Linked DNA regions of Homo sapiens: all the other regions are linked to region 1. The links come from fine-mapping of genetic effects on gene expression. A gene starts in region 1. Each other region holds a variant in brackets. All regions are shown on one strand. Distances are between the middles of the regions. Region 1 holds the start of SAMD5 (sterile alpha motif domain containing 5). Region 2 overlaps SAMD5 (sterile alpha motif domain containing 5). Region 3 overlaps SAMD5 (sterile alpha motif domain containing 5).

Region 1 (10,760 bases):
AGGTTTTTGTTCCCATGCAAAGGTTTATCATATTTATATGATCAAAAGTATCAAGGTTTTTCCCCATTGCTTCAAGAAGTTGAATCAAAATTAGGAAAGTTCTCTCCACTCGGATTATAGAGGAATAAACCCATGTTACCTTTTAATTAAGTATATTGTTTCATCTTAATCTTTACATTTCTGAAACGTGGAATTTATCCTATTGTAAAGCATAAAGAAAATGTCATCTATGTTACTTCTCTGGGCAGGTCCCTGAAGACCCTCTCTGCTTGCTTATGACCCCAGCAAGTCCTCTAAGGCCACAGCATGCTGGCTGAGAGCATACTACCCCAAGCCACGGCCCTGGTCCAAGCTGTGGGCATCTGGGCTCACTAAGACAAGACAGTTGAACAGCTCCAAGAAAGGGTCTGAAATTTGGCTTTTGTGAAACTGTTAAGCACAAAAGTTTTGAGGGAATATTCAAAACATCTCCTACTTTCAGGTTGTCAGGATTATTTCTAGGAACTGAGCTTTTCTGATGTAGGCATCTGATGCCTCACCTACGTCTTGTATTTGCACATTTATAAATAGGGTCTAAGAGACGATGTATATATATATAGCCTCCAAGGTCAGAGATAGTTTCAAAACTGGGATGCACTCCACACTGCCTTGCTCCAAAGCTGCAAAAAGGCAAGATCTCAGGCGTTACTAAGAGCTCTAATTATGCTGGGTTCTTATAATTTAAGAATTCAAGAGTTATAAAGTATAAATTCCAATAGCAAGTTTAAACCAGACAAGAAGCACTGAAAATTTTAAAACAAATACATAAAATTACATTGCCTAAAGAGAGAAAACCAACCACCTCTCAGTCATCAGTAGCCATGCAGGTCTCAGGAAGCAGGCTCTATGGGATCGCTTGTCCTAACTCCAGAATGGGAAGAAACTGTCAGATGGGAAAAATGTTGTTTAGTCAATTTGCATTGGTCATAAATTGAGTGATTTCATTGTTGTGATTATATACATGACTTGCACTTGTCTGAAATAGCATTGACCAATATAATTTCACTTGTATGGGGTTACATAACCTAACATTTAGGTGCTAAATTATAATAGCTTTGCTCATTTAGAATGATAAAATAAAGGTACTCCTAAGAGCTGCCCATTGTTATCTAACAAAATACTGCACCTATCATTTTTACCTCAGAAGACACTAGATTAACCTTTTCCTCCTCTTCTGGAGTACATTTTAAAACGTAGAACTTTTGGGGATTACCAAAGATGAGAGAATAAAATTTTTGAAAAATGGTTCGTATTTGATTTTCTGTCACAAACACAGTCTGTAGCTTGGCTCTCTTTTTGTTAGTGACCTCTAAGTGAATGACTTCTTGAACATGCATTTCCTCCCCCTTTGTTCCTTCTTTAAAGAAAGAAAGGCCTGTTATAACAGCAACGAATAATCTAATGGGATCCTGCTGGCACTCCCCACTGCTCCTTGTCTTTCCTTCTTTCATATGTGTGTTGTCACACACAAGTCTAATGTATACAGCTCAGACATATTAAGAGACACCCCCACCCTGCCTGCCCCCAATTAAGTTGCCAACCCAGCACCTCACTCCCAGCCACCGAAGAAGAGATTGCCTGTTACATCACTCAAGCCCATTATTCTCTTTTCTCCCTATGGCATCCACTCCTTCTAGATGCTTTTTAGCTCCTGGTTTAAGCAGAGGCAAGACATATTTTGCATTTTAAGATTAATATTATATATCTTTGACTTTTACAAGGCTAGACACCCTGGGGACTGACATTTAATAGATGTTAATGGAATTTAATTTTTACATGCACTAGGTGTGAGCATTTATCTTCTAAAATAGTCTGAAACCTTAGACGGCACCAAGAAAATTCCATAACAAATTATTTTTCACTCTATATCCTTAAATCAAGTTACTGAGCAAAGTAGAAAAGCTGTTTTCTGATATTTAGAATTTAAAACCTGAATATAATTATCATTAATTAATTACATGGAAAGGATCAACAGGCATTTTGCCATAGTGATTACCATTGCAAAACAGTTCTAAAATGGTGCCTAAAAAGAAACTTTCTCCATAACCTATTTTCCCATTGATTTTCATTAGGCAAGACATCCCCTCTGCAAAAGTAAGTGTGGCCCCAAACATATTAAATAATAATCAGCATGATCAATATTTTGAAAATTTTTATATAACTCTAACAAAGCAATGATAAAAGTAACACAAAATTAGAGGTAGTTGACCATGTTTTCTGAGTAAATTGTGTGTTCTAACGCTGTGACTAGGAGCAGAGTAGCCACTTGCATTTTCAAAGTACATTTTTGTCTGGATTTCAAATACAGTTTAATTTTGAATTTTGGCTAATATGATCACAGAATTTGGAAAATATTACAGATAGAAGAAAACACTGCTTTGTATCTTTGTAATCTTTACAATTCATGAACTAACATATTTGAAAAAGCTGTCAATTTATTCTCTACATATTTAAAATGCTGAAGTCCCTCCCATTCCAATTAATGAAGGAAAACCCTTCTTTTTTTGCTTCAGTGCCTGGCACTGAAGTGCCTACTTAATAAACATTTGATGAGTAAATGAATGATTTTGACAGTAGCCAAGAGCTTGCAGCAAAAATGAGGTAATGCAGTACATTGCAAAGAGCAATGTGAGGAAGCGGATCTGGGTTCTTGTCCCAGTTCTGTCATGAACCAGCTGTGTAACTTTAGGTAAGGAACTTGACCTCTCTGGGCCTTGGCTTCCTCCATGCAAATCTGGATGCTGGGTATGACCTCCAATGACCTCTAGTTCTAAAAGGCTACAGTTCTAAATCTTAAAATTAGCCATTCTTGCCAGTGTCACTTTGAACTTTAGCCATTAGTCTCCACAGAGATAGACACATTTTAGCGTAGTAGCCTCTAGAATGAAATCTATTAAAAGGTTCAATATGCTAATGCAAGCAGTGGAAAGATACAAGCCTCAATGGTTCACCCAAAGAGGACTCGAGTAAGTGTAGAAGTGTACAAGAGAAATAGAAGGGAAACCTGGGAAAAAAAAGTCTCTATAGCTCAGACTAGTGAAGTCTCCAGAAAGCAGGTTTCCTGAGAGGTCAAAAGTGAGTAGGTTTTATTTATGACTGATTAACAAGTGATGAATTTATAAAGGGCTTCCCTTCCAAAGAGAGCACCAGAATGCTTTATTTCCTAATTGGAGAGTGCTTTGCACATAAATAAAGGAGGATCGCTGCTGCCTGTCAGGGAAGCACTTTGATAGGGCAAGCATGTTCTCGTCTGTGTCCTGATTGACTGTGTGACCTTGGGCAAGTCATTCGTCTTCCCCCAACCAGTATCCCTAATCGTAAAACGGAAATAAAAATACTCACTGCCTTCGCTGAGGATTTATAAGACAAGATGAATATGTTTAAGCCCCCAGAGGGGAAAAGGCCACATATAAGAAGGCAAAGAACTACAGACTCGTGCTGTTGGACTTTTCATACAACTTGGGAAAGAAAACAACACAACAAAACTCTTGAGCTATAGGCCGGGCGCGGTGGCTCATGCCTGTTATCCCAGCACTTTGGGAGGCAGAGGCGGGCGGATCACCTGAGGTCAGGAGTTCCAGACCAGCCTGGATAACATGACGAAATCCCGTTTCTACTAAAAATACAAAAATTAGCTGGGCGTGGTGGCAGGCGCCTGTAGTCCCAGTTACTCAGGAGGCTGAGGCAGGAGAATTGCTTGAACCCAGGAGGCGAAGGTGGTAGTGAGCCGAGATCATGCCACTGCACTCCAGCCTGGGCGACAAAGTGAGACTCTGTTAAAAAGAAAAAAAAAAAAAAAAAAGAAAAGAAAAGAAAAGAAAAAAAGAAAGAAAGAAAGAAAGAAAAAAAGACAAAAAAACTCCTGAGCTTTAAGTTTTCCAGTCCCAAAACAAACAAACAAAAAACCCCCAAACAAACAAAAATCCTCACCCCATACAACCTGCCCATTTTTTCCCCCTACATGTTGCACAGCACAGCACAGGCTGGGGACTGTGATTCGAAGGTGAGTAGCTGGACGGCTGAAGGCTGATGTTAAATTTATCCCCCCAGAATTCGAACCCCTTGCTCCATCCGTAACAGTGAGATCGTTGGCAAATTAGTTTTGATGTCTCAATCTCTTCTTCTGTAAGATATGGGATAATATTACTATTTACCATATGTGTACAGATCTGTGAATAGATGCCTGGCATACAGTAATTTCCCAATAAATATTTGCTGATAATTTCTGTTTCTTAGCAGCATCATTCAAACTGCTGAAATATTTTCTTTAAAAAAAAATCAAAGGTCCTTCTGAGATAGTATTGGGATATAAAGATAAACGTGACAAAAACATTTGTGCTTCAAAGGGGAACCAGTATAAAGCCATAAAGCCCACTTTCTTCTGCTGAATAGAATGAGTTTGGGGACAGGGACAACGCCTTAAAATGGGTCAACGCGCGGACGCGAGGGGGCACTGTGAGTCCGCTTTGGCGAGGGAGAGGCGGCGGCCCGCGCGGGGCGGGGAGGGCTGCGCCCTTCCAGCATCCCAGCGCCCAGGAGCTTCGCCACCTACCAGGGTCCGAGACCTTAACTCGGTTCCGGAAAGGGCGTCCCGGGTGACCCAAGTTTGGGGCCACAAGCAGCTCCACCGGCTCTCCGCGTTGGTCTCTCCCCTCCCCCTAAGCAGACAGTCCTTTCTGCCAGCTGTCCTTAATTTGAGATTCGTGAGTCCCGGGGTTTGGGAAACCAGAACCCCCCTGCGACTGTAGGGAACGTTTTGGGTGCGCCTATGTCGGGTATTTTCCTGGGCAAAAGGACAGAAGCTGTCATCTGATTCTTTAAGGGGTTCGTGTCCCAAGAGGGGGTTAAGCTCTCTTGGTTTAGGATAAGAGGGCCCACCTAACCACCCACCCAAATGCCAAACACACAGCAGGTCGAGAAACGACTCTGAAATCACTCCTTGTCCACTTCCCAAGGTCGGGCGAGAGACTGGCACGCCCCACGGGCAATCTTCAGAAAAAAAGGTCAGATCTGGTCCTTAAACAGCTCAGGTGCGAAGCTGAATCGCCCTTCTGCGGAAAGAGAGGAGACAGTACCTGCCCCCGCCGTCCCTCACTTCCCTTAGTCCCAAGAAGAGGTCAGACACCGGGAAATGGGGCCCAGGCGCTTGGTCTGTTCCACCTGCCACTCGAGTCCCCAGTCCCAAGAGGCTGCTCAGACATTGGCATGATGGGGAAACTCGATTGATTTTGTTACCTCCTAGAGGGAAAATGCCGTGGGCGGAGATGTCTGAGCGTCCCTTCCAACACGAGCTGGGTGGTGCTCTATTGATTTTCACGCGATCCCCGGGCGGGAGCGAGAGGATAGGCTCGGATTCCCGGGCTCCAGGACCGAACGCCTGGCAGTGTCCCCGGGGGCAAAGCCACCCCGGGAGCCCGTGCAGTATACTAGGTGGGGGGCCCGGAGAGAAAGCATAGCGCCGACGAGGGGGAGGGGCCGGGCAGAAAGGAGGGTGGGGTACCGGGTGGGACACACTGACCTAGGAGAAAGTACAACCCACCCCAAACTTTCGCAGACCCGGGAGCTTAGGAAGGGAGAGCCAGGAAGACAGCAGCCTCTCCTGCCGCCCAACGTGCCCAGCTGCAGCGAGGAGGGGCGGCGCGCAAGCCGGCTGGACCCGGGCGGTCCCCACGTTGCGCCCACCCTCCGGGCCAAAACGCCGCCGCTCGGGTCACTGAGTGGCCGCCCACGGAAGAAGTCAGATCGCCGGGCTCTGGGCTGCGTACGGGATCCGAGGAAGGGGGATTCAAACGCGGATCCGGAAGGAAGGGACACTGAACCCCGCAGCGTCCCCAGCGCCGTGGGGCGGCGGGACGTGTCCTTGGGCTGCCAGCGGGCGCGGAAGCTGGAGTCCGGCAGGGTCGGGAAGAAGTGAGCACAGACTTCCACGGGTAGAAGAGTCAGATTAAACAGAAATGTGAAAAGCAACCCAGGGCAGCCAACGGAGCCCAGCAGCGTAGAAGCCACCGGCTTCCCGCCGGGAGGACTACAGTGACTGACACTCGCGAAGACTAGGCGCTCCCAGCGGCCGCGGGTCTGCGTGGAGAAGTCGCCTCGCGGCGCGGAGCGCGCCAGCGGCGGCGGCGGCTGCCAGAGCGCGAGATGCGGCGCGCAGCCGCCGGACCGTCCCGGCTGGGAAAACTCGCGGGCGGCACTGCGCAGCGCTGACCCGGCGCAGGTCCGAGGGGTGTGCCCCGGCCCCTCCCGTCTCCGCCCCCTCCCGCGCCAGTCGCGCGCCCCTCCCCGCGGCGGCAGCGTCGGCGGCGCATCCAGGGGCGGCGCGGAGCCTTGCTCAGCCCAGCAGCCAGTGCCTGCGAGCTCCGCTGCTGCTTGGGGAATTCACTTTGCTGCTTGTTCGCTTCTCCCTTCCTCAGGCTTCTTCTGATGGTTTTCCGTCTCCTGCCCGAGCCTTTCCTTTAAAAGGAAAACTTTACTGCGATACCCTTTTCCCCTTGGAGGAGAGGATTAAAAGTTCCAAGAACTGGTGCCGCCCGTGCCATTTGGGCGCTGGGAAGGTGCTCGGCGGCGGGGTTCCCGGTCCCACCATGTGCACCAACATAGTTTACGAGTGGCTCAAAGCGCTGCAGCTTCCGCAGTACGCGGAGTCCTTCGTGGATAACGGCTACGATGACCTGGAGGTGTGCAAGCAGATCGGGGACCCGGACCTGGATGCCATCGGGGTGCTGGCGCCCGCGCACCGCCGCCGTATCCTGGAGGCCGTGCGCCGGCTGCGGGAGCAGGACGCCAACGCCGCCGGCCTCTACTTCACGCTTGAGCCGCAGCCGGCGCCCCCCGGGCCGCCCGCCGACGCCGTCCCCACCGGCCGCCGGGGGGAGCCGTGCGGCGGCCCGGCCCAGGGCACCCGCGGGGACTCTCGCGGCCACACGACCGCCCCCCGCAGCAGGGAGCTGGTGAGCTACCCCAAACTGAAGCTGAAGATCATGATCAGGGATAAGCTCGTCCGTGACGGCATCCACCTGAGCAAGCCCCCGTACTCCCGCAAGGTAAGGAGGTGCCGTCCGGGCGGCCCGGGGCGCGCGGCGGGAGGGGACACAGCCCAGCTGCCTGTGCCAAGGCTTTGCAACCCATTCCAGGTGACGACGGAGAGGCCAGGAGGCTTTGGGTATCTGGGACCCTTTTCTATGTTCTTTCTGTATTAGCCCATTATTTCGTCCTTCCTGGTGTCTCCAGTGGTTGGTAAGACAAGCCCCCGCATCCAGATGTTATCTCTAAACTAACGACCAAAACTCCGCATCCTCTCTGGTGCTCGCCTGTCAGGAATCGGACTCGCGCTGCTTCACCTGGTAGCCAGGGGGAATTCCTAACGCCCTCTATAGTAGTTTTGGGTTTGAAGAGTACCAGAAAAAATGGTTAATACCTACATTGCTTTCTACCTTCCTTTTTCTCTTTCTTTTCCTTTTTTGAGTCTTGAGAAACTCCTAAGGGAAATCGGTGAACTCTTTAAAGAGTGGAAAGTCAGGCCCTGCCTTTCTCAATTCCATAAAAAATCCCAGCGCTGCTGCAAATTTGAGAAGCTTACCATTCACATGAGCATTTTAAGAGGAAAAGTGAAGGAAGCACGTGTCAGTCCACTTGAGATGATTTCCTAAACTTGTGTATACTGGAGGCAATAAGGTGCTAAGGACATCAGAGATAATCGGGCCACAGGATGTGCTTCAGAGGTCTGGGCTGTCACGAGTTTGGTTTATTATTAAGCCAGATAAGATGAAGTAGGTACAACTGTGACTTCCAGGAAGTGTGAGTGGACCTGCATTTGGGAGAGGAGGACCGAGCACAAGTGAACTAAAGGGGAATCCTCTGCACCGGGGGCCTCAGGGAAGGAACCTGGAAGTTCCGAAATGTGGAGTGGGAGCTGGGTAATTAACAGAAAATGGTACTTCACACCAGAGCTCTGCTTCTAGCTGCGAGTCTGTTCCGTTTAGGTTTCTAGTTCAGGCGGCTGTCGGAGTAGAGGGTCCTGACTTGATAGAGAAGTAGACAGCACAGGTAACGCTCAGGATTGCAGAAGGTGCACAGGAATATGAGCACCTCAGCTTAAAAATCAAGACTTAGAAGAGCCCAGGGAGAAAATGATGGCAAACATACTCAGCTGGTGGGCCACAGAAACCCAACTCCCTAATAGGAAATGTGGATAATCTCAGTGTTGTGTGGGTATCTTGGGCCCTGGTAGTATTGCTGTAGAATCTTAAGTAAAGGCTGTAATGCCTGGAGTTAAGGAAGTTAAAGGGAAAGCTTTGTTAAGAGTAGATAACAATACCTAAGGTAGATGGGAATAAGGGGTTTAATATTATCTACTACCTTGCACGTACCATAGGCAATTCAGATCACCTGCTTGACCATGTTAATTGGTTTTTTAAGGAGGATACAAAGAAGGCAGGTTGGGAGGACAGAGTGCTTCAAATTAAACACGTGTTCCAGTTACCCACTCTGTGCCACTGATGTGTGCTCAAAGCAGGAAAGGAGAGAACACTTTTCCCAGGCAGTTGCCTGTATGTAGGAGTTCCATGTATGTCTGGTGTGGATAGAGAGATCTGGTCATCAGTATAAAGGCTTGGTCCTGGACACAGCAGGTCAAAGGAGATCAAAGCCAGTTAGATGTTTGTTATTAGCATCCCGGGAAGTAAGGTGGGCTTAGTCTGAGAGAATGTGAGTACCTGGGCACTTGATAAGGGCACAGTTCAAGTCCTGGCAAGAAAGGAATGCAGAGAGCAAAGTGTGTCACTAGAGCTTACTTATTCTTCAGGAAAAGTGCTGTGTAATGGGGCGGGGAGAGCAGGGACACCGTGGGCTGGAGGTGAGAAGCGTAAGCTTGAAGTGACACATTTTAGTTCTGATTCTTAAAAAGCAAAAGGCAGACCTACATATCAAACATAGAGGCTGGAAAGGATGTTAAGGGGATGAAACGTCATCAGAAATGTCAGCACATAGGCTTTGAACTCTGGTCTCCTGCCTAGATCAGTGGGTGCTATGGTAGTGCATTTGCATAAGTGCAGTTTACATAAGAAAATGCCAAGTTGCACTGCAATACTATTTACTTTCCATGTAAATAATTACTTCAGTCAACTTTGCTTTAAAATAAATCCCATAGCAATAATGCTTGATAACAAAGATATGCTCCTATTCACTTTCTATACATATTTAATTCTCCTCAAACTGATGGAAGAATAAAATAGAAACAGAAGTGTTTTCATTATCTCCCTCATTGATCCTTGAGTTGGGGACCAAAAAAAAAAAAAACTGGCACTGACAAACTTTATTGTAACACACACTGAAATAGGAATTAAAATATAATTAATGTACACATATAATTAATATACATATATAGCAAACTGAGCATACAAATGTTTAGTACCAGATCACGTTGATCATTCTGGATTTGTTGCTTATATGTGCATTGCCTCTTAAGTTTTGGATTTTAAATTATTGAAGAATTTGTTTTCTGATGTAGCTAGTTTCTTCATGAGCAGTGCTAGAACTTTTTCTTTTCTTGTGTGATCCACATTCTAATTTCTCCACTTTCCTTGGCTTTGTCATGATCAGAATATATAGTATTTTTTGTTTGTTTGTTTGAGATGGAGTCTCATTCTGTTGCCCAGGCTGGAGTGCAGTGCCAGATCTCGGCTCACTGCAACTTCTGCCTCCTGGGTTCAAGCAATTCTCCTGCCTCAGCCTCCCAAGTAGTACCTGGGATTACAGGCACCTGCCACCACGCCCGGCTAAGTTTTGTAGTTTTAGTAGAGACGGGGTTTCACCATGTTGGCCAGGCTCATCTCGAACTCCTGGCCTCAGGTGATCCAGCCACCTTGGCCTCCCAGAGTGCTGGGATTACAAGTGAGCCACCGCACCCCGCCAGAATGTGTAGTATTTTTGATGTGCATTTGGAATTCTGCTTGGTGGAGTGGGCTTTTCAGTCTCCTTTGCAGTCATTTGCATCAATGATGCCTGTGATTTTGTTTTGCTGAGAATTTTAGATGGCTTGAAGGTGAATTATGCCAAAGATTATCAAGATAGGGAGAGTGAGTCTCTTACAGAGGAAAGTAAGTTGAGGGGTCTTCCCAAGAATCACCTGAAAGGATTGTAGGATTTGATCCAGTAATGGTCAAAGTTATGCGGTTTAGGGATCAGTGAGTTAAAACGTAAATAAAAAGTAAATTTTCTTTTGTTTTCCAAAGGGAACTCTATAGCTTTGAAAAAACAGGAGCTTAGAGAGAGCACCAGGCTTTAAATCAAACATCATTGGAAGAGTTCCTCTTCTGCCCTGTATGTAGCTTCTCTGACTGCTGTGATTTCTACCTTTGTGAAATGGGGATAAAATAATTTTTTACCAAGCTTCTCTATGCCAGGCCTTCTGTTGGACTCTGGGTTACTGTGGTTGGCAGGATGTGAAAGCTCTGCCCTCTGGGAACTTAGCATCTAGTAGGGAAGACTTAAAATGGAATGAACAATAATGATAATGTGTGACGATTGATTTGATGAGAAGTACATGATACCATGAACAGGTGCATCCAACCCAGTTTGCAGGGATTGGGCACCATCTCAGTTTTTCCAGAACTGGCCTATGACCTGAGTACTGACGGTTGAGCATATTTAGCCTGAAGAGGAGCAGGGTCTTAAGGGAAAGAGTGTTCTCAGCAGAGAACAGTGTGTGCAAAGGCCAGGAA
Region 2 (10,760 bases), 23 kb after region 1:
AACTGTCTGTTTCTCTGTTGGTGAAAAATAGATATGGTATAGGGAGTGGGTATGTCTTAGAGATTTTTATTTAAAAAAAAAGAGGAAGACTTAGCCGCCTGTGCCCTCAAGAACTTATTGTGGCAATAACTGCTCAATCAGTAGGGTTTACATTGACTGTGGTAAGTAGGAGGAGTAGCTGTGGGGACCTGTCTATGTGGTTCATGGAATGGGCATCTAGTATGGCAGGGAGGAAGATTTTCATGGAGGTGGTGATGGTATGGCTGACCCCTGAAGACGTGTGTTGGAGGCAAGTGTGTCATCAATTTGGCCAGCCTGGAGTGGGAATACATTTTGAAAAGTCCATAGAACACTAATACATGGAGAAATAAGAATAGATTGGAATCTGTGGAAATGGTGTTTAATCTTTCAGTAAACTCTATTAATTGATATCCGAAGTGTTAGTAGCTAGAGGTTACAAGGGTAATGACTGTAACTTTTCCCGCTTGTGACTTGGCATTGTTGTTACTGGCAATGGAAAGGCCGAATTTAAATCACAGTCATCGGCCTTCTAAAGTGAGTGGTTCAGAATTTAATCAAGGTGTGAGCTATGGGGGTTGGTTACTATGTGAGCGAAATCAACACCTATGTCACAAAGTCTGATGAAGAGAGAAGCCTTTGCCAGTCAGCATTAGGGAGGCACTGGTTACTGCCAATGTCCCTGAATGTTCTTGACCAGTTCTGCTTCTTTAGCAGGATCAGTCTGTTGATGTGTTCACGTACAAGAAGAAAAGCACAACCAAGAAAGCCAGCATGCCTCCTGGAAAGCTAGATGGTTTCATGGTGGTGACATCAATCTCCAAACTAATCTTCAATTTCAACAAGCAGCAGGTATAGGCCCAGCCTGTTGGCCATTATCTTTGGATATACCACAGAGACCACACCTGGCTGCCTTTTGACACTTCATCAGTGTCACCTACAACCACACTCTTCAAATAGCCTGCTAGAAATGAATTCCTAGGGCAGAGCTAGGACATGATGAACTGGGCTTGTTGCAATTCAACTAAAAAGCATGGATATGTGCAGAGGGAATGGGAGCAGTGTTTTGCAGGGAAACCACTTTAAAACTGGAGTTTTATAGGCTTAGGTTTTGTGAGTTTCATATTTGTGTTTAATTGTGCATTTTAGCCTATTACGTGATTATTAATTAATATTATTACTTACATTCAGCAAATATTAATTGAGCACCAAGAATGTGCAAAGCACTGTTGGGGTGATGCGGGGAATTCAAAGGTGACAATACTATGAATGTGCCCTAATGGAAATTACAGTCTGGAGAAAGATAAACACACACACATCCACAGATCCATCCATTCATAGATATATATGTAAGTAAACATAACATTTCAGCATCATATGAATGCCAAAATGAAATACAAACCTGTGGGAGCACCAAGGAGAGAACTATTCATTTTGACTGAGGTATTGGAGTATCTTTCAGCCGTAACTGAATGTGAAGGATAGGTAGGATTTTACTAGGCAGAGCCACAGTGTGGACTGTATACTGGAAGCTAAGGGAACTGGACTGTGAACTCCACAGGGATACTGTCCATTTATAAGCTTTTTGTATATTCAGCAGCTTGCTATAAATATTTATTGAATGAATGCATGCATGAAACAGCATTAGCAAAATCTCAGAGTGACAAAAGTGCGAGGTTTGGATTGGTGAGTGGTCCACTTTGGGCGGCAATGGGATGGGAGAAATGAAGCATAAGGTTGGGCTGAGCTGTTGAGGAACTTCCCTGTGGTACTAATGAGTTTAGAATTCATTCCAGAAACTGGGACCTGTCAGATATATTTGACCTGGAGAATTACCTAACCCTGTTTATTTAATGAAGCTCCTTCACATTTTTAACATTTTTGGATTTCTTTCCCATTCTCTCTTCAGGAGTTCCTAATCTCTTTATCCATAGTCACCCCTTTTACTGTATCCCACCTTATCCTCCAGCTTTGAAGCTTTGGATTGAAAAGCTTTGCTACATTGCTTCAGTGATAATCAGTTCATTTTCCTCTTTTCATTGATCAAAGGCACATAACTCAGTGTACTAGTCCATTCTCACATTGTTATAAAGAAATACCAGAGACTGGGTAATTTATAAAGAAAATAGGTTTAACAGGCTCTTGGTTCTACAGGCTGTACAGGAAGCATGGCAACGTCTGCTTCCAGGGAGGCCTCAGAGAGCTTTTACTCTTGGTGGAAGGCAAAGTGGTGATCCAGCACTGAATATGGCCAGAGCAGGAGGAACAGAGAGCAAGGGCGGAGGTGCCACACACTTTTAAACAACCAGATGTTTTGAGAACTCACTATACATTTCCAAGGGGGCATGGAGCCAAACCATTCATGAGAAGTCCACTGCCGTATTCAGTCACCTCCCACCAGGCCCCACCTCCAGCACTGGGGATTACAATTCAACATGAGATTTGGGTGGGTACGCATATCCAAACCATATCATTTGGCCCCTGACCCCTCCCCAAATCTCATGTCCTTCTCACATTTCAAAATACAATCATGTCTTCCCAACAGTTCCCCAAAGTCTTAACTCATTCCAGCATTAACTGAAAGGTCCAAAGTCTCATCTCAGACAAGGCTAGTCCCTTTCACCTGTGAGCCTGTAAAATCAAAAACTAGTTAGTTACTTCCAAGAACTAATTTATAAAGAAAATAGGTGTTTTTAATAAAGAAAGGTTTTTTTTATAAAGAGGTAATTTATAAAGAAAAGAGGTTTAATTGGCTCACAGTTCTGCAGGCTATGCAAGAAGCATAGCACCATCTGCTTCTAGAGAGGCCTGAGGGAGATTTTACTCATGGTGGAAGGCAAAGCAGGAGCAGGCATCTTACATGGCAGGAACAGGAGCAAGAGAGCGCGTACGGGGAGGTGCCATACACTTTTAAACAACCAGATCTTGTGAGAACTCACTCACTGTACAAGGGGGGATGCTGCTACACCATTCATGATGACTCCAACCCCATGACCCAATCATCTCCCACCGGGCTCCACCTCCAACACTGGGGATTACAATTTGACATGAGATTCACTGGGGACACAGATCCAAACCGTATCACTCAGGAACCGGATAAACCAGCAAGGGTTAAGCATGGATTTAACTCCTGACTGTATTAGTTTGCTATGCCTGCCCTAATAAAATACCACAGACTGAGTGGCTTCAACAACAGAATTTTATTTTCTCACAGTTCTGAAGGCTTGAAGTCCAAGATCAAGTTGTGGACTTCTGAGGCCACGTGCCCCAGCTTGCAAATGGCCACCTTCTTACTGTGTCCTCACGTGGTCACCCCTCTGTCTGTATCTTGCCTGTGTCCTAATCTCCTCTTCTTATAAGGACACCAGTCATATTGTATTGGGACCCATCCTGTGACCTTATTTTACTGTAATCACCTCTTTAAAGGCCCTGTCTCCAAATACAGTCACATTCTGAGGGTCAGGACTTCAACATATTAACTTTAGGGGGATGCAGTTCACCCCATAAGACTGACCTGAGGAGTTAATCCAGGCTGTACCACCTGACTTAGAAAGTTATGTTGTCAGTGGTTAAGTTAATCCCAGTCACATGTGGTAGGAATTGGAGCTTGAATCTAACAGCTGATGAAACTAGGTGGTTGCCTAGTGAAAGTGGTCTCCTCTAAATAGTTCAGTTTCTACCACATGCAGGAGCAGTCACTATTGCAATAACTTTAAGTAGGCTTGGAAAAGATGAACATAAATCCACTGCACATTTGCATGGCATTTATTAGAGAATAACCCCCTAAACAAGGGCCAAACAGTACCATTGATGAAATAAATCTCAGACTCCCAATTCACATGGTCCTGACTCCATCACTTTTGACCTGTGTGACCTCAGCCAGATTGCTTCAGCTTTCCCTGCCACTGTTTCCTTATAGATAAATCTAACATAACAGTGTTTCCTCCTGCCTAGAACTATTCTGAGGATTAAGTCAGAAAATGTATGTAGAGCACTTAGCTTAGTGGTTGGTACATAGCAAGCACTTAGTAAACTATTATGTATTCAGTGTTAGCTTTTATTAAAGATGAAAATGGCAGATCTATTCACAGGCATGTTAGCAATAAAACTACTAGGGAAATATTAGTATTTGCATTTATATTTATGTAAATCAAATAAGTTTTCATAGGTTGGCAATCATGTTTTTAAAATATTATAAATATTGTTCTTCTAACCTTATCAATTAAGACATAGATTTTATTCTTATCTATACCCCAATATTATTCAAGAATAACTTTAATTGGTCTTAATCCAAGAGTTCGATGAATACCAATTTAAATGTAATTTAGGTGTATTTATCTTCTAGAATTGAACATTCTCTTCCGCTAATAGTATAAACTTTAATTGTCTTATAATGTATACACGCAGATGAACTATTCCTTTGTGTTGCTAAGATATATAGTATGATTGGACACTGTTATTGTTTCATTACAGACAACCTCATAGGAAGCCTTCCAGAAGGTTTGCATAAAGGAATATAGCACACATAGAAAATGCTGAATAAACTCATCAGTAATGATTTCCTTGGGTCATTTTTACTTTCTGCCTACTTCATCTCCACCTCTAAGTAAAGCATTTCATTTTATTAATGTTTTTCATACCACTTATTTTGCTAGTATTATACTCATTTTAGAACATTTTTAAATATCCAATAAAAATGAATTGGGCACTTACAAATATTTTGTACTATAAGACTGTTTTTGAATATTGTCATTAAAACAGTTATTTCAGGATTTCCCAGTTTATACAATGCATATGGCAACTGAGATACTTATGATCTGTATTATGTGTTTATAAGAATAAAGTTAGTAAAAAAGATTTATTCTAGAAATCAGTTGAGAAGACATTTAAAAATGTCATGTGCAGTTGGGATTCTTCAGCACCTTTTCTTATGGTGTTTCTTTTTTTATTTTCTTAAAGTATGTTTTTACCATATATGGGGACGATTTTTTCCCCCTGGTATTTAGGCTTTGCGTAAACTCCAAACAGAACTATCAAACAAACATATTAGAGGTTTC[G/A]CTGCAGAAAGGACAATATTTATTTTTTGTGTTTGAGATTTCTGTGCAGTAATAATTAACCTTAGATTTTGAACTATCATTGGAGGTGTTGTGGACAGGAAACACATTGATACTGGAGGAGAAATTATTTTTGGCAATACGGTAACTTACCACCTTGTGCACACAAGCACTGCCCATGTGCAGGGACGTTTTACTTGTCAAGATTTACCTCGGAAGAGCATGGTGTGTGCGCAGCACAAAGGCGGCAGGTGCGGATGGCTTTTTTCTCAGTGATAGGGCATGTCAATTCTCATTTCCTATATGCTGAGGAGCACAAAGGGAAGCAGCCGGCATTGCCCTCTGGGGCCAACCAGCTCCTTCCTTCCCCTCGCATCTTGGAGATATGCCATCCTGCCCAAGTACCTGCCTCCTGAGCCACAACTGGCTTGTGGTTTTGCTTTTTGTCTTTGTGGTCCTTGTTGAGGTTTGTGCACTTAATAAGCAGAACCACCAGTGAGAGGCAAACCTTGCAGACAGGGGAATTCCTGCAAAAGCTAAGAATCACCGACTGAAAAGAAGAGAGCAAAGGTGCAAATGGCTTGGGGTGGAGTTGAGGAATTGCGGGACCAGGCCGTGGTTCCCAAACACAGAGAGAAAAAGCACATTCAGGGTTCTGAGCCCCAGGCATTTTGCGTAATCAGCCTTCTTTGCTGTTTCTACTGTTTGATGTCTTAATCTGTTATTCTGGGACCTATAAAATTGTGGAACACAAATCCAAGTTAATCCAAGTTAACCTCTGAACTTGACCTACTTTCATTTAGAATTAGCCTTATTTAAAGTTGTAAACTACAATCATGACTGAAGCACACTAAATAGTGTTCTGTTTATAAAACATAAACCTTTTTCTCTTTACTGTAAATCCTTTCTGGCTGAAGAGGTCTATATAAGAAAACCAGGATATATTTTTCAGTTATCCCAGGACATTTAAACTTTTGAGGATTTAAAAATGATAGTCTTAAAAGTTTTTTTTTTTTTTTTGTCAATTTTAGAGATGATAGAGGTTCTTTAGGTTCTAAAAAATTACTTGATTAATTTTGGTTCTGATGTTTTAGAAAAATATTTTAATCCTGTTTATGTGAATAAAGTCCAGTCCACATGTGAAATTACACTGAAGCCATAATAATCAGTTATGATTATGTAAATTGTAGAACTGATTTTGGCTAAGCATTTCAAAATCCTGCCCAAAATTGCAGTATTTAATTGTAATCTTAGATTATTACCAGGATAATGGCTGTTTTAAATCTTCTTATTTCCATATAATGTGAAGGCAGGCCCATGCCTTACTCATCTCATCTGCCCCAGGCCCGGCATAATGCCTGGTACCTGGCGGGCACCCAGTGAGTGTTGCTCTGAATGGAATGCTCACTGGGACACATTCCTCCATTTTCATTTTGCCCATCAGTGCAAACAAACCTATCAACCAACATTCATGTCAGAACTTATTACTCATTATTGCAACTGTAGGATGGCTTCCCATATAAGAGCTTGGCCAAAATCAACAAAAAACATTCTGTGAGGATCAATTGGATATATGAAGTTGATAATGAGGGATATTATAGAGTTTATTTATTTTGTAAATTGTGTGCTACATAGCCTTATATTTTCGGTCTAGAAAAAATTAATTTTATTTAAAGATGAGTAATAAAACGACCCATAATAGAAATTTGTACGAGATTATATCATCAAACAGTTTTAAAAAGGAGGAAATAGGAGAATTATACTCAATATAATAATTTCTCTTGGAGAAGATAAACATACTGAAAAATTTTGTAGAAATTCATTGGAGTAATCATTTCTATAGAATAGGATCACAAAAGAGATAGTAAAACTAACTATAACGTAGACATTACCAGAAAACAAATGTTTGTCTCTTTTTTCATTGCTCTATTACTATCCCCTAGAACAGTGACTGGCACATAGAGTTTCATATATATATTTAAAATAATTAATTTTTATTTCAGTTTTGGAGGTACTAGTGTTTTTTGGTTACATAGATAAATTCTTAAGTGGTGATTTCTGAGATTTTGGTGCACCTGTCACCTGAGCAGTGCACACTGTACCCATTAGGTAGTCTTTTATCCCTCACTCACTCCCTCCCACCTTCCCCCACCTCCCTGAGTCCCCAAAGTCCATTATATCATTCTTATGCCTTTGCATCCTCATAGCTTAGCCCCCACTTATAAGTGAGAACATATGATATTTGGGTTTCCATTCCTGAGTTACTTCACTTGGAATAATGACCTCCAGCTCCATCCAAGTTGCTGCAAAAAACATTATTTCATTCATCTTTATGGCTGAGTAGTATTCCACATCCCACATTATCTTTATTCACTCATTGGTTATGAGCACTTAGGTTGGTTCCATATCTTTGCAATTGCAAATTGTGCTGCTATAAACAAGTTTGTGCATGTGTCTTTTTCATATAAAGACTTCTTTTCCTTTGGGTAGATACTCAGCAGTGAGATTACTGGATCAAATGGTAGTTCTACTTTTAGTTCTTTAAGGAATCTCCATGCTGTTTTTCATAGTTGTTGTACTAGTTTACATTCCCACCCACAGTATCAAAGTGTTCCCTTTTCACCACATCCACACCAACATCTACATAGCCTTTCTATCAGTACGGTTTATAACATAGTTATAATGAGGTTATGAATGGGTCCACGTGCATACATTTTTCCTCCCGGAGAGCCAGTTGTTAAACATTTAGCCCTGCACTACCGAGAGGGCATTTTTATTATGGTTACTTCTAGTTCAGATTTTGGCTAGTAAATGTTAACCAAAGTTCTTTTGAACTGAGATTCAGGGGAGTGGTGGTGTTTTACCTCCTGTGTTGTCCTCCCTGTACAGCAGAATGAAAGCAGTGCAGCCATGGTCAGGCCTTGGGTTGGGAAGGGGGCTGGCGGTGCCAGCAGAGGCCAGCACACCCAGAGCCCAGACCCAACATAGGGGCCCAGACCAATCCACCAAGCCCCGGGGCAGGTCCAGGGCTTGCAGGGCATGATGTTTATGAAATGTAAAGGTCTTCTTTAAAGCAAAAGAATGCAAAATTAGGTAAAGGGCCTGAGGCCTCAACTTCATGGTAGACCTACTGATCAAGCAGAGAGAGCATTTAAGAAACCAAGGCCGGGCGCAGTGGCTCCTGCCTGTAATTTCAGCTACTCCGGAGGCTGAGGCAGGAGAATGGCTTGAACCCGGGAGGTGGAGGTTGCTGTAAGCCGAGATCGCGCCATTGCACTCCAGCCTGGGCAACAAGAGCGAAATTCCATCTCAAAAAAAAAAAAAAAAAAGAAAGAAAGAAAAGAAACCAAGAAGCTTCTAGTCTGACATCAGGAAGGTAGAGGACAGGATTTGCAAGAGCATCAGTGGTGGCAGAAGACAGCGAGGAGAGAGTCACCAGGAGTCCAGCCGAATGAGGAGCCCTGTATTAGAGAAATAAAACCTAGAGGATGTGTGTCTCCCCTCTCCCCCTTCCTCCTCCTCCCCGCCTCCTCTCTTATTTTAACTGGTGACACCATTGTGGGGCAGACTGGCAGCTGCAGATCCAGGGATCCAAGAAAGCTGATGTTGCGGTCTTGAGATTGAGGGCAGTCTAAAAGCAGAATTCCTTTTTTCTTGGGGGACTTTAGTCTTTTTCTCTTAAGGCCACCAACTGATTGGATGATGCCTACCCACATTATGCAGGCTAATCTGCTTTATTCAGAATCTACTGATTTAAATGTTAATCAACATCTAAAAACTATTCACAACAATGTCTAGACTGATGTCTTACAAAAATAAACTGGGCACCACAGTCAAGCCAAGTCGACACTTAAAATTAACCATCAGAAGCCCCAGTGTAGATTCTCAGCCTAGCCCATAAGGAGGGCCAGGAGGGCAGGTCATCTCCTCCCACAGTGTGGACATGACCCGGGGTACCTAGAATAGAGGTGAAGGACTGCAAGAGGAATGTGGAGTTCAGAACCCTGTGATGCCATTAGCTAGTTTTGTTTTGGGCCTGAGGGCGGTGAGCCCTTTTACCTTTCCAGCCTGAGTTTTCTGCTGGGTGAAGTGAGAGCACTTGTAGAGACATGATGAGTCACGGGCGAAAGGACTGTGTTCTTTTTTCTCGTGGCACCCTTTTTGAAGCAAAATCTCATGTGAAATCCAAACCTCCCCAAACAGAGTTCAAAGTACCTTGTCTAAATGAATGGTTGGGGCAAGGACTGTAACCACCCAAGGGCTTTACCTTGCCTGCTGCCTAGACAGAGCCGATTCATCAAGACAGGGGAATTGCAATGGAGAAAGAGTAATTCACACAGAGCCGGCTGTGCGGGAGACCAGAGTTTTATTATTACTCAAGTCAGTCTCCCCGAGCATTCAGGGAGCAGAGTTTTTAAGGATAACTTGGTGGGAGGGGCGACGCCAGTGAGCCAGGAGTTAGGGTTAAAATCATAGGAAGTTGAAGCTGTCTTTTTGCGCTGAGTCAGTTCCTGGGTGGGGGCCGCAAGATCAGATGAGCCAGTTGATTGATCTGGTTGGTGCCAGCTGATCCATCAAGGGCAGGCAAAATATCTCAAGCACTGATCTTAGGAGCAGTTCAGGGAAGGTTAAAATCTTGGTCACCTCTATCTGCATGACTCCTAAACCATAATTTTTAATTTTGTGGCGGATGTTAGTCCTACAAAAGCAATCTAGTCCCCAGGCAAGAAGGAGAGGTCTGCTTTGGGACAGGGCTGTTACTGTCTTTGTTTAAACCATAAACTATAAACTAAGTTTCTCCCAAAGTTAGTTCAGCCTATGCCCAGGAATGAACAAGGACAGCTTGGAGGTTACAAGCAAGATGAAGTCAGTTAAGTTAGATCTCTTTCACTGTCTCAGTTATAATTTTGCAAAGGCGGTTTCAATCCCTTCCTTTGGGTTTTATAACATCTTAATTTTAAGGTATAGGCTATGAAGACAGGAAATGGCCATTGATCGCTTTGACTTCTTCCTGCTTACAGGGGACGTAGTGGGAATGGGAGTGAACCCCAAGGTGAGAAGCGTGTAACCGCTTTGTAATTGTGTGAGCGTGCTCATGCAGCCCTGGTTGAGCTTCCAAGGCTTGCAGGGCAAACATTAGTATTTTTATTTATAGTGTTACTACAGTGTTTAAGTGAACAGCCTACTATAAGGTAAATAACAAGTCCTAGGATGAGGAGTACAAATTTCGATTTTAAAAGCAAAGATTTGAAAACATTAGTTTGGGGATTTTAACCTGCACATAATTTAGAATTTAGTTTAAACTGCAGAAAAAGCCTTAAGAACAGCTAACAACAGTGTACTATAGTTTTTCTTTTGAAGCATAATTTTTTTCTTTAGTCCCCATTTTTATTAAAAACAAATCATGATAGAACTGATTTGTTTACAAAATAAACTTTAGTCTTTCTGTACTTGGCCTGATTATTTGCATGAAGTGTAGCAAGAATGATTATTTTTTACTTAGGCTTTTTAAATTGGCTTTGATAGAACTTTATTCTATGAAGAATTTTAGATAAGACTTTTTGAAAGTCGAGCCTAGCCATGGTTTGTATCCTTAAATATCTACGAGTTGGGCAAATTCCTTTTCTCTGGAGGTCCTAAGATAATCTGGGGTTCCTAGGCCTGTTAGAAAGTGATATTTTTTATTTA
Region 3 (10,760 bases), 45 kb after region 1:
TACTGTAAGCTCATCGTGGGAGCGCCATCTATCATATATTCACAGGCTCCACCCACACTCGAAACGGAGGGGATTACACAAGAAGAGGAATCACTGGGGTCATTCTTAGAAATCCGTTGACTGCGTTTATTTCTGCCCAAGAAATATAGCTTAGGAAGGAAGTTTTTTCATGGAACCTGTAGTTTTGCCCAAATGCAGAATTGAAAAGTAAGAAATCTTTCTTCAACAAGAATTAGATACTGATAGGGGAAGAGGAGGTGGCTGAAGCTGGTGGGGAGAGAATATGAATTTTCTTTTAAAGGCTTCTTGATATACAGAAAATACTTAAAGAGCAACTTAATTTAGGTAATGGGCATATAGAATAGTTTACTTCCTTGATTTTCAAATTAAGAACAGCACTCATAAAATCTCATTTAATAAGTTCAACAAGAAAAAATATAATAATAGCCAATTAAGAGAAAGAGATTTAGCGGGGAGTGGGAAGTAGAGAGACAGCACAGAGGGTAAAAGCCATTCAGAGATCTTAATAGATGAACAGTATCCCTTAGAGGATAATGTTGCTAACTATTATTAAAAATCAGGTTGTGATTTTATATGAATGGTTTAATAGTTTTTGTACATGTTGCCTCCTCAGAGAGACCATCATTTCGGTACCCCACCACTCATTATCATATCACTCTCTTACTGTCTTTCTAGAACGTGGCAGAATTTGAAATTGTCTATGTTACATGTCTAATTGTTTATTCTCTGCTTCCCAATTTGAATACAGAATTATGTGTTCCCTGTTAACTTTACCCCAGAATGGGAAATGCAGAGAACCAAGTCCTAGTCCCAGGTCTGTGACTAACTTGCTTAGAAGTCAATTCGTTTGTGATTCTGAGAACAGAACTCATCTCAACATCTATCAAATGAAGAATGTACAGTAGAGGAATTAGATGATTTCAAATGCTTCTCCCAAAGGTATCCTCTATGCCTTTTTTCCCTTTGTTTCCAAAATGATCTGCTTTCTTGATTAGGACTTAATATTTCTAAAAATATTGGGTGGTCATGTGCTGAAAGAAAAGATGGTGCTGTGAAGGAATTTGCACAGGGTTCCCTGAAGTGAATTGTTTCTCTTACCCTTGGCTTTCTCCCCATGAAAATGAAGGCAGAGTATGACAGATTGTATTTCTCCTCTTGAAATCACCTTTCTTGCATTGCCCCTCCCTGCAGGAGTATTATGTGTCTTAACCCTTTGAACTCTGACATGCTTTGGTTAATGAAAGGTGAGTAGAAGTGATGTGGCTCTCTTCCAAGCAGAAGCTTTACAAAACTGTGCATGGTTCACAAATTAAATCTTTTCCCTTAGTCACAATGACTGGCAGTGATCCTGGAGTGAAGAAAATGGCACAGAACCATAGCTGACCCATACTGGATTTGTAGCATGAGTGAAAAATAAAACTTCATTGTTGAAAGCCATTGAAACTGTGAGGTCATTTGTTACTGAAGCAGAACTGGCCCATCCTGACTGATAAACGCCTGATACTTGCGTGCACCAGTTCAAATCATCTTGGCCTGAATTCCTATTGCAGCCACGGTTGAGCAAACAGCTCTGCATGAGTTTCAACCAGCATCACATAGGTGCACCCTAGCAGCTCATTGGTTTAGGCCTGTGCTTCTTGCTTTCAGTCCAGAGGTTCCTCTAACTTTGTCATGTACTCCTGTGGGAACTGACTGGCACTCATACATGTATGAACAGGAAGTGCAAGGATATTAACATCCATGAGACAAACCTTGACAAATGAGTAATGGAAGGTGATGGATAAATGTTTCTCTCCTTGTTCTTTTTTCATGCACAGCTCTGAGATGTATTTCCTAAGGCTCCTGGAAAGGTTTTCCATAATAGAGCAACACATCACCAAGCAGCCAACCCCTTCACACATCGCGTCGGTTTTGGGCTTTCCTTCTTTGTTTCACTCACTCCTTCCTTTTACTCTCTAGGATCACATTCCCAAATAAACTATCTACATATGAGCCTTTGCCTCATGTTTTGTTTACTGGGAGAACATGACTCATCACCAGTTAGATTCTCTTTGAATTGAACCAACTTGAACATTATCCACCACCGGAGCAAATTATGTACTTCTATAGCATGGAGGATTATACTGTACATTTATAGTAACTTGCAGAACACAAACAGTTTGCTACTTAGACTGGAAGTTATTGTTAGATTTGCTGATTTAAAAATAAGTTCTCCCTTCCCCCATTAATCCTCTATCAACCGGCTATTATTAAAAAGTCAAAAATAGGCCATACGAGATGGCTCATGCCTGTAATCCCCACACTGGGGGAGGCTAAGGCAGGAGGATCACTTGGGCCCAGGATTTTGAGACTAGCCTGGGCAACATAGCAAGACCTTTGTCTCTAAAAAAATAAAAACATTAGATGGGCATGGTGGCCCACTTGTAGTTTGAGCTACTTGGGAGGCTGAAGAAAAAGGATTGCTTGAGCCCAGGAGTTTGAGGTTACAGTGAGCCATGATCACTGCACTAGAGCCGGGGCAACAGAATGAGACTCTTGTCTCTCTTAAAACAAAAAGGTCAAAAAATAGCATGTTGAAGGGAAAGGGAACATTTATACTCTGTTGGTGGGAATGTAAATTAGTACAATCTCTATGGAAAACAGTACAGAGATTTCTTAAATAATTAAAAATAGAACTACCATTTGATCCAGCAATCCTGCTACTGGATATTTACCCAAAGGAAAAGAAATTATTATATTAAAAGATACCTGAACTCATATGTTTATCACAGCACTATTCGCAATAGCAAAGATATGGAATCAACCTAAGTATCCATCAATGGATGACTAGATTAAAAAAATGTGGTATATATACACAATGGAATACCATTCGGCCATATAAAAGAGTGAAATTATGTCTTTTGCAGCAATATAGATGGAACTGGAGGCCATTATGTTAAGTTAAACTATTCAGAAACAGAAAGTCAAAACCAGCATGTTCTCACTTTTGAGGTGAGGGCTAAAGAATGTGTACAATAGACCTAGAATGTGGAATAACAGACATTGGAGACTCAGAAGGGTGTGAGGTGGGCAGAGGTGAGGGATGAGAAATTACTTAATGGGAACAATGTACATTATTGGGGTCACCGTTAGACTAAAAATGCCCAGACTTGACTGCTACTCAATATATCCGTGTAACAAAACTGCACTTATACCTCTTATATTTATATATATATATAAACCCTCCCATTATTAGTTCTCAGTCCATCCTGGTGCCATAACACACAGATTTTCGTTGTGAGGCATCCATGTTTTTTGACATTCAGTGATTGAATAGCATGTTGTTAGACACAAATTTCAAATGTGGAAGCACAGTAGAGGGGTTGGGATAGCTGTCATTCTGTAATACCTTGCTGCCCTTCCACTCGAAGTTCTCAGACCACTGACAGCGCCCTGGGGCACAGTTCAGTTGTTAGGTGCCAGGAGAAATACTGTTTCATTTAGGAATTGAATTGGCCAAATTCTCATAGTGTCTAGGCTCTGTTCCCTTTTTGCCTCCTCATCAGTCTATTCCCTAAAAATCATAAAATTACAGCATGATAGAACCGGGTCTTAAAATAATCTAGCTAACTCCCTTATTTCATAGGTCAAAAAACAAGAGGTTAAGGAAAATGCTCTACTTTGTGGGGTGAAGGAGAGAAATTAAGGGGGAATGTAATTTTGGCTGTTAAGGAAATACCATTTTCTTTTAACGTAATTAAGTTCTTGATTGTGATGCTCTTAAATGAACCATGAAATTCTAAGCACTTACCATGCGAGTGTGATTTTTAACTAAGCCTTTTTTTTTCTACCCCCAATCTGAATGTTAAGGTGGCAGATGCATAACTAATCTTAGCTGAATCTATATTAAGAAATCAGCAAGGTGTCTTTATTTAACTTCCATGATGTGTGAATATAATGTAATGTTGAATAGCATGATTTTGCACATTATGTCCTAAAATAAAAACAACTCCCTTAAAGTGATAGTAAAATGCAGTAATGTGAAAGGTTATTTTTTATTCGATCTCAAACGAAATGAAAAGCACAGAAGAAAAGAATTGGAGACCTTATTCTTAAATGTGATTCTTATATATATGTTATATATATATATATATATATATATGTATATATGTATTTTAACATTTTAATTTATATATATGTAATATTTTTAAACCTGAAAAACCAGTGTTTGGGTTTGTATTCTATGTCACACAGAGGAAGCTCCTATCAGCAGAAGAGAGGTTCTAAAATCCTTGTTATCGGAGTTTAAATTTTCTGAAAAATATCCCACCCGTTGAGCTTCTATGTTCTTGCTCTGGGATGTTTCCATGGGTCTGTATTAGTTCCAGGAAATTTGGGTCCTTTCTATTTTATCTCTGGAATTGAGGTTCCTGCAGAAACTACAAGGGATTATCTGTGTTCTTTGCTGTTTAATGTCTTTGCTGCAGTGAGACAGATTCCTGAAGGAGTAAACAATGAAATGTTTTAAGGCTAACTGTGGGAGATTATGTGGAGAGGAAATACAGCTATTCTGAGAGAAGACATATAAAATGTTGGCCTGTTGCTTCTTGAAGTAATACTGTAAAGACCTCTTGCCTGTTGTACATTAACCAATGCAAGCATGTTATAGTTGAAGTTGGGATTCTGGGGTTCACCTTTTTCTCAGTTAATGAATTTTTATTTTAATGTAATTGAATTTTCTTTAAGAATCCAATTTCCACTTCAGAAGATACCATTCCCCTGGGAAAGTGGCTCCCAATCCAAAGAACATAGACCCTTGAGGAATTAATACAAGACTCTTGGAACCTATTTGGGCATCAACCATTGTCAGTGAACATCTGCATAAATAGTGTTTTATATAAACACATTTGAAGGTGTTCTTACATTTTTGGTCACTTTTAAAGCAGTACTTTTTCTCAATCAAAGGGTAGCAGGAAAATAAGAAAAGCCTAACAGTAAGGTGACTCTGTGTGTGTGTTTGTGCACATGCATACATATGCCTGTGTGGGGCGGGGTTGCGGAGGCGCAGTCTGTGTTTTTAAAAACAATTAAAGAGGTCTTTATGCTTTAACAAGCTGAGAACTACTATGGTAGTTATGTTCTGTAGGGCATGCTTCACAAAGCTAAATGAAAAATTTTAAAGTTAATGACTAAACAGTGCTTAAAGCATACACATTATTCATGATTTATTCTAATAACATTTGTGGATGACTAACTTAATAATGGTGCTGAACATCCATTATGTTTTTGTTCTAAAGATGTGTCTAAGTATCTATGCCTCCTTAGGGGTGGGTTTACATCACTCAGTGATTGAACTAAGATATATAATTCCATGTCTTTGTATAGAACAGGTACTGGAAAAATCAACCAGTTATATAGGCTTCCACTGTGCCAGATACTGTTCTAAACAGTCTTGTAGATATTAGCCCATTTAATCCTCATGATAACTCTCTGGGATGTAGGGACTGCTGTGGTTCCTATTTTGTAGAGGGGGAACTGAAGCGGAGAATGGTTAGGTTGGGTAATATGCCCAAGGCCATCCATCCAGGAAATGGCAGAGCTGGACTTTGAATCCAGAGTCTGAGCAGATCCCTTGCCCTGTCCTGCTTCCATCAGAGGACTTCATGTCTGTCCTGGCAGGAAGGGATAGGATGACTGCTGGGGAATACCTAGAGGCTGGCTGGTTTGGTTTGAGGTAGTATGCCTCATGTGTTCTCCACTCCCTAACCCCAACTACCAAATTGTTTTCTCTCTTTCTGTATCTTTCTCTTTCTCATATACAATCTCACATACCTACAACCACTCTGGACCCACGCTGGACACGATGCCATAAGGTTACCTTGGACAATGGCTGAGAGGTCCTTTGGTCTGGGCTTTGTTCCTAAACCTTCCCCTAGGAATTGTCACTGCATAACACCCAGCATGAATGGGTAAGGTCTCCAATGCATAATACAACTCAGTCCTATTTACGTGTTTTCCTGCTTTAGGTAACACATTTGTGTTTCTTCCGAGTTCATTTGGACAAGGTCAGTGTCTTGAGGGTTATTCAGATGACTTTATAAGCACTGTTCTTTTAAAGCAGTTAGCC[A/G]TGGTCTAACTTGAAAGCCACATCACAGCATGTTTTTTTTTTCTGAAAAGTCTGAAAGTGTTCTTTTTCAGCCCTGCCAAAATTGGAGACGAGGTAATGGGACGGAAAACAACACGGGTACCCTGGACTTCCTTCATTCTGGCTGCCACTAAACATGTGTGTTAGTCCATTCTCACACTACTTTAAAGAACTGCTCAAGACTGGGTGATTCAAAAGGGAAAGAGCTTTAATTGACTCACAGAACTGCAGGGCTGGGGAGGCCTCAGGAAACTTACAATTATGGCAGAAGGCAAAGCAAACATGTCCTTTTTCACATGGTGGCAGGAAGGAGAAGTGCTGAGCAAAAGGGGGAAAAGCCCCTTATGAAACCTTCAGATCCTGCAGGAACTCACTATCATGAGAACAACAGTACGGGGGTAACCACCTCTATGATTCAATTACCTTCCGCTGGGTCCCTCCCATGATACATGGGGAATTTTGAGAACTAGAATTTAAGATAAGTTTTGGGTGGGGACACAGCCAAACCATATCAACATGCAAATGTGCCTGGGAAAGAATCGCTAAAGAGGATGACGCTGTTGTCTTGCTTCCTTGCCCCTTCCGATTCATCAAGTGAGGTCGTGGCCAGTGGAGGCCAGGCTTCAGTGTTTGGGGAACTGAGCTTGGTTGCCAGGAGGCCACAGGCTATTTTGATATGGCAGGCTGGCTGCACTCACAATTGCTGGGTCACTTCAAAAGCTCTTGTGATTGGCAAGGCTGGCAAGCACAGTCCTTCAGAGAAGCATGTTTTTTCCAGGCAGAGCAGCCATCTTTGCAACCCCCTCACCAGACAGGAGAGAAAAGTCACCTCACCTTAATGGCAGGAAGGTTCCAGACTTCCCAGTTCCTTGGACTGAGCCAGATGAGAGCCAGAAGGGTGAATGTGGAGCGATTGCTAGGATGGAGCTATCATTTGAATGGGCAGAATTCTATTTCAGACTGATGACTTGGTTGGACGCTTGATGCTGATTTTGTGATGCCTACCTTAACTTCTTGTATCCAGAAGTGGTATAGAGCAGTAGTTCTCAAAGTGCCGTCCCCAAGGCCCTTTCAGGGGGTCTGCAAGGTAATAATTATTGCATAACAATACTATAATGTGATGTTATTTGCCTCTTTCACTGGGAGGGCATTTGTACTGGCAGCACAAAAGCAACAGTGGATAAAAATGTTAACGTCGACCTGTGTTAGTACTTACTGGATTCTTCACCCATATGCACACCCACATATACCTGCCAAAAGAAGCAATTTTTCCTTAAAATAGCCTTGATGAAGCAGTAGAAATTAATGTTTATTAAATCTCCACCTTTGTGTACATGATTTTGAATATTCTGTGTAACAAAATGAGAACTACTCATAAAGCACTTCTGTTGCAAATGGACGTGTATGTAAATCTTGTCTCCTTGCAAACCACTTGTGCTCTTGTTTGAGTTGCTGGCTGAACTGGCTGCATTTTCCATGTAACACCATTTTCACTTGAAAGAACAACTGAGAACAAGCCATGCTTATTTAGACTTGGGTATTTGGCAGATTTCTTAAAAATAACTAAAGTGAACCTAATATTTCAAGAAGCATAATTGACAGTATCTGTTGCTAATGATGAAATTTGAATGTTCAAGTGAAAACAAGAATTTCAGAAAACTTATACTTGCCCCAGTGAGTTTGATAGTTTCATACTGCCTAAATATTTTTTTTGATTAGGCTACCTTGGGTGGTGATATTAACACATGGAATTTTTAAAATATATTGAATAATGATATGTGTCAACATTTGGAAGATCTGCGTAATTCAGAAACTGAATATTTTCCAAATGACCAATACATGATACCATAAAATCATGTATGGGGGAAAAAGTCAATCAAAAGTTGAAGATTGACCAATGATTTTAATGTAATAAACAGTAAGAAAAGTTCATTGATATGGTTTCAAATTTCACATGGCAAGTGACTTTTAAGAAACCGCCGCTTGTCAAGTTTTGCCATGGTATTAAAATGAATATCTACAATTATTTATCTGAAAAGTCTGTTCAGATACTCCCTACTTTTTCAATGATACTTCTCTGTGAGGTCAGATGTGCTTCATATACTTCAATTAAAAACATATTGCCACAGATTGAATATAGAGAGATATAAAGAGACATACAGAGATATGCACAAATGTAAAACAATGCCATTCTTCTTAATTTTGGGGAGAATATATGTTTATTTTTCACAAAAATATTTGTGTTAATATGTAATGCATTTACTAGTGTTATTATTATTTTTTTTTTTTTGAGATGGAGTCTTGCTCTGTCGCCCAGGCTGGAGTGCAGTGGTGTGATCTTGGCTCACTGAAAGCTCCGCCTCTTGGGCTCATGCCATTCTCCCGCCTCAGCCTCCCGAGTAGCTGGGACTACAGGCGCCTGCCACCACGCCCGGCTAATTTTTTGTATCTTTAGTAGAGACGGGGTTTCACCGTGTTAACCAGGATGGTCTCGATCTCCTGACCTCGTGATCCACCTGCCTCAGCCTCCCAAAGTGCTGGGATTACAGGCGTGAGCCACCGTGCCCGGCTACTAGTGTTATTTTTAAATGAATTAAATATGTATTTTAAATATTTCACAGTTACAATTTAAAACACAGTACATATCAATAGTTATAACCCATAAAACAAAGCTATTTGGAATCTTCAGTAATTTTTAAGAATTCAAATGGCTCTTAGAACCAAAACCAGAGAATGGCCGGGATACAACATTGCAGTGTTCTCAAGTGGAGGTTTCTGAGCTGTCATGAAATTACAAAAAGTTTCCCAGGTTGGGAATAGTGACTTTTCATTATATAGTTTTAAATACATCAGAGACAATTACTTAAATAATTTTATCTTTAAAATGAAAACTTTGTAGAGCTCAAATATGCTTACATCACATATTAAACTCTCATTCTTCAATAACTGATATAAAAACAAAAATACTGGCAATTATTTTCAATTTTAATTTATCAGAAATAAATTATATCTACAACGATAGTATGTTATTTATAGAGCAATGCTTGAAAGTGGCCACTAAAACCTTCTCTCTTGTCTTGCAATTTAAAATAAATCACAAATATTCAAGTAAATAATAAATAAACCAGCGGATATTTTGAGCAAAAGAAAAACAGTAGTTCTGTATGTTGACTGTTTTCTAGTTTTGATGCTGTAACCAATAGTTAAATCTCAGTCTGCATATTAATATACATGGAGTCAACATATAAACATATAGTTTTTAATGTATTTTAACAAATCATATTTTTCATACATAATTTAAAGTTTGCATCATTTATTGAATAGGAAGAAGTCAAACTTTTTCATTATGACATTAAATATAACTAAATAAGCATCATGCATAACATTTTATATTCTGAATAAAAATAAAATACTTTTGTCTAAAATCACCTTTGTATCAATGAAGGGATTAAAAAACATTTCTAATAACATTTAAAATTCTATCTTTCCTGCAAAGGAGCCTATGTTTTCTAGGGCTTGTAACAAAATAATACCAACTGTGTGTTAAAACAACAGAAGTTTGTTTTCTCACAGTTCACAGCCAGAAGTCTGAAATCAACGTGTCAGCAAGGCCATGCTGCCTCCAGAGCCTCTAGGGGAGACTCTTTCCTTGTCTTTTCCAGCTTCCAGTGGCTTCTGGCATTCCTTGGCTTGTGGCTGCACCACTCCACTCTCTGCTTCCACTTTCACCTGGCCTCTTGTTGGTATGTCCCTGTGTCCTCTCCTCTCCTTTCCTTGTGAGAACACCAGGGATTAGATTCAGGGCCCACCCTAAATCCAGGATAATTTCATCTTGAGATCCTTAATTAAGAACATCTGCAGAGACTCTATTTCCAAATAAGGTCACATTCTGAGGTTCCAGGTGGATGTGAATTTTGTGAGGGGGGACACTATTCAACCATTACAGTTTCCCAACATAAAATGATTGCAGAGCATAGAAGTAGTTTTGATAAAGTGGGCTTTGCTGTTGCACAGACCCACCCTGCCACTGATTAGCAGTTTGACCCTGGTAGGTTGTCTACACTTTAAAGCCTCAGATTCTTCATTTATAAAGTTGGGTCTAGGATCGCCATCACATTGGCTTGTGGTAAGCAGTAAAGGTGATTATGTAAAAGTGTACGTTCACATCACAGTCCCTGGGAGGTAGGCACAGAGGGAGTTCACTCAGTAAATATTAGCAGCCGTTTGCTGCTGTTGCTGGAGCAGGCAGGTAATAATAATCATAGTATGTTCTATAAGCATACCGTCATGGCAATTATATTGGTGATAATTGAAGTATGAGTTAGCAGATTAATGTTAATGGTGATTTCAAAGACAATTAGTATACAATAATAGATGATTTTCCTGTGGAATAGGTTGATGAGAGACAGAGACAGAAGGAGGGAGAGAATGAGAACTTCAAGTGAGCAGCCCAGGAGCCTGATGAGAGCCAGGCAACAGAAGTGTTGTATCCAAAGACCCACCATATTTTAACGAACTGCAGTAGAGGCCAGACACTGGCGTTCAGCACACTCCAGCATTTATGGCTATTTCTGTTCTGGGCTTGTGCTGCGTAATTATAAGGCCTGTGTCTTGA

Evidence for each region.
Region 2: its variant is fine-mapped to the expression of SAMD5 in liver (GTEx, PIP 0.91).
Region 3: its variant is fine-mapped to the expression of SAMD5 in thyroid (GTEx, PIP above 0.99).

Annotation. Positions count from the first base shown.
Region 1 is chr6:147,502,306-147,513,065 of GRCh38, forward strand. It overlaps SAMD5 (sterile alpha motif domain containing 5), which reads left to right and starts at 6,385. Exons shown (of 2, transcript NM_001030060.3): 1 at 6,385-7,082. The coding sequence starts at 6,624. RefSeq lists an enhancer at 1,248-1,777 and a silencer at 4,537-4,586.
Region 2 is chr6:147,525,080-147,535,839 of GRCh38, forward strand. The region is part of intron 1 of SAMD5 (sterile alpha motif domain containing 5); the gene reads left to right. Among named protein-coding and RNA genes, the nearest start is that of SAMD5, 22 kb to the left of the region's middle. The variant G/A (reference allele first, on the strand shown) is at 5,076.
Region 3 is chr6:147,547,676-147,558,435 of GRCh38, forward strand. All of the region lies in intron 1 of SAMD5 (sterile alpha motif domain containing 5), which reads left to right. Among named protein-coding and RNA genes, the nearest start is that of SAMD5, 44 kb to the left of the region's middle. The variant A/G (reference allele first, on the strand shown) is at 6,128.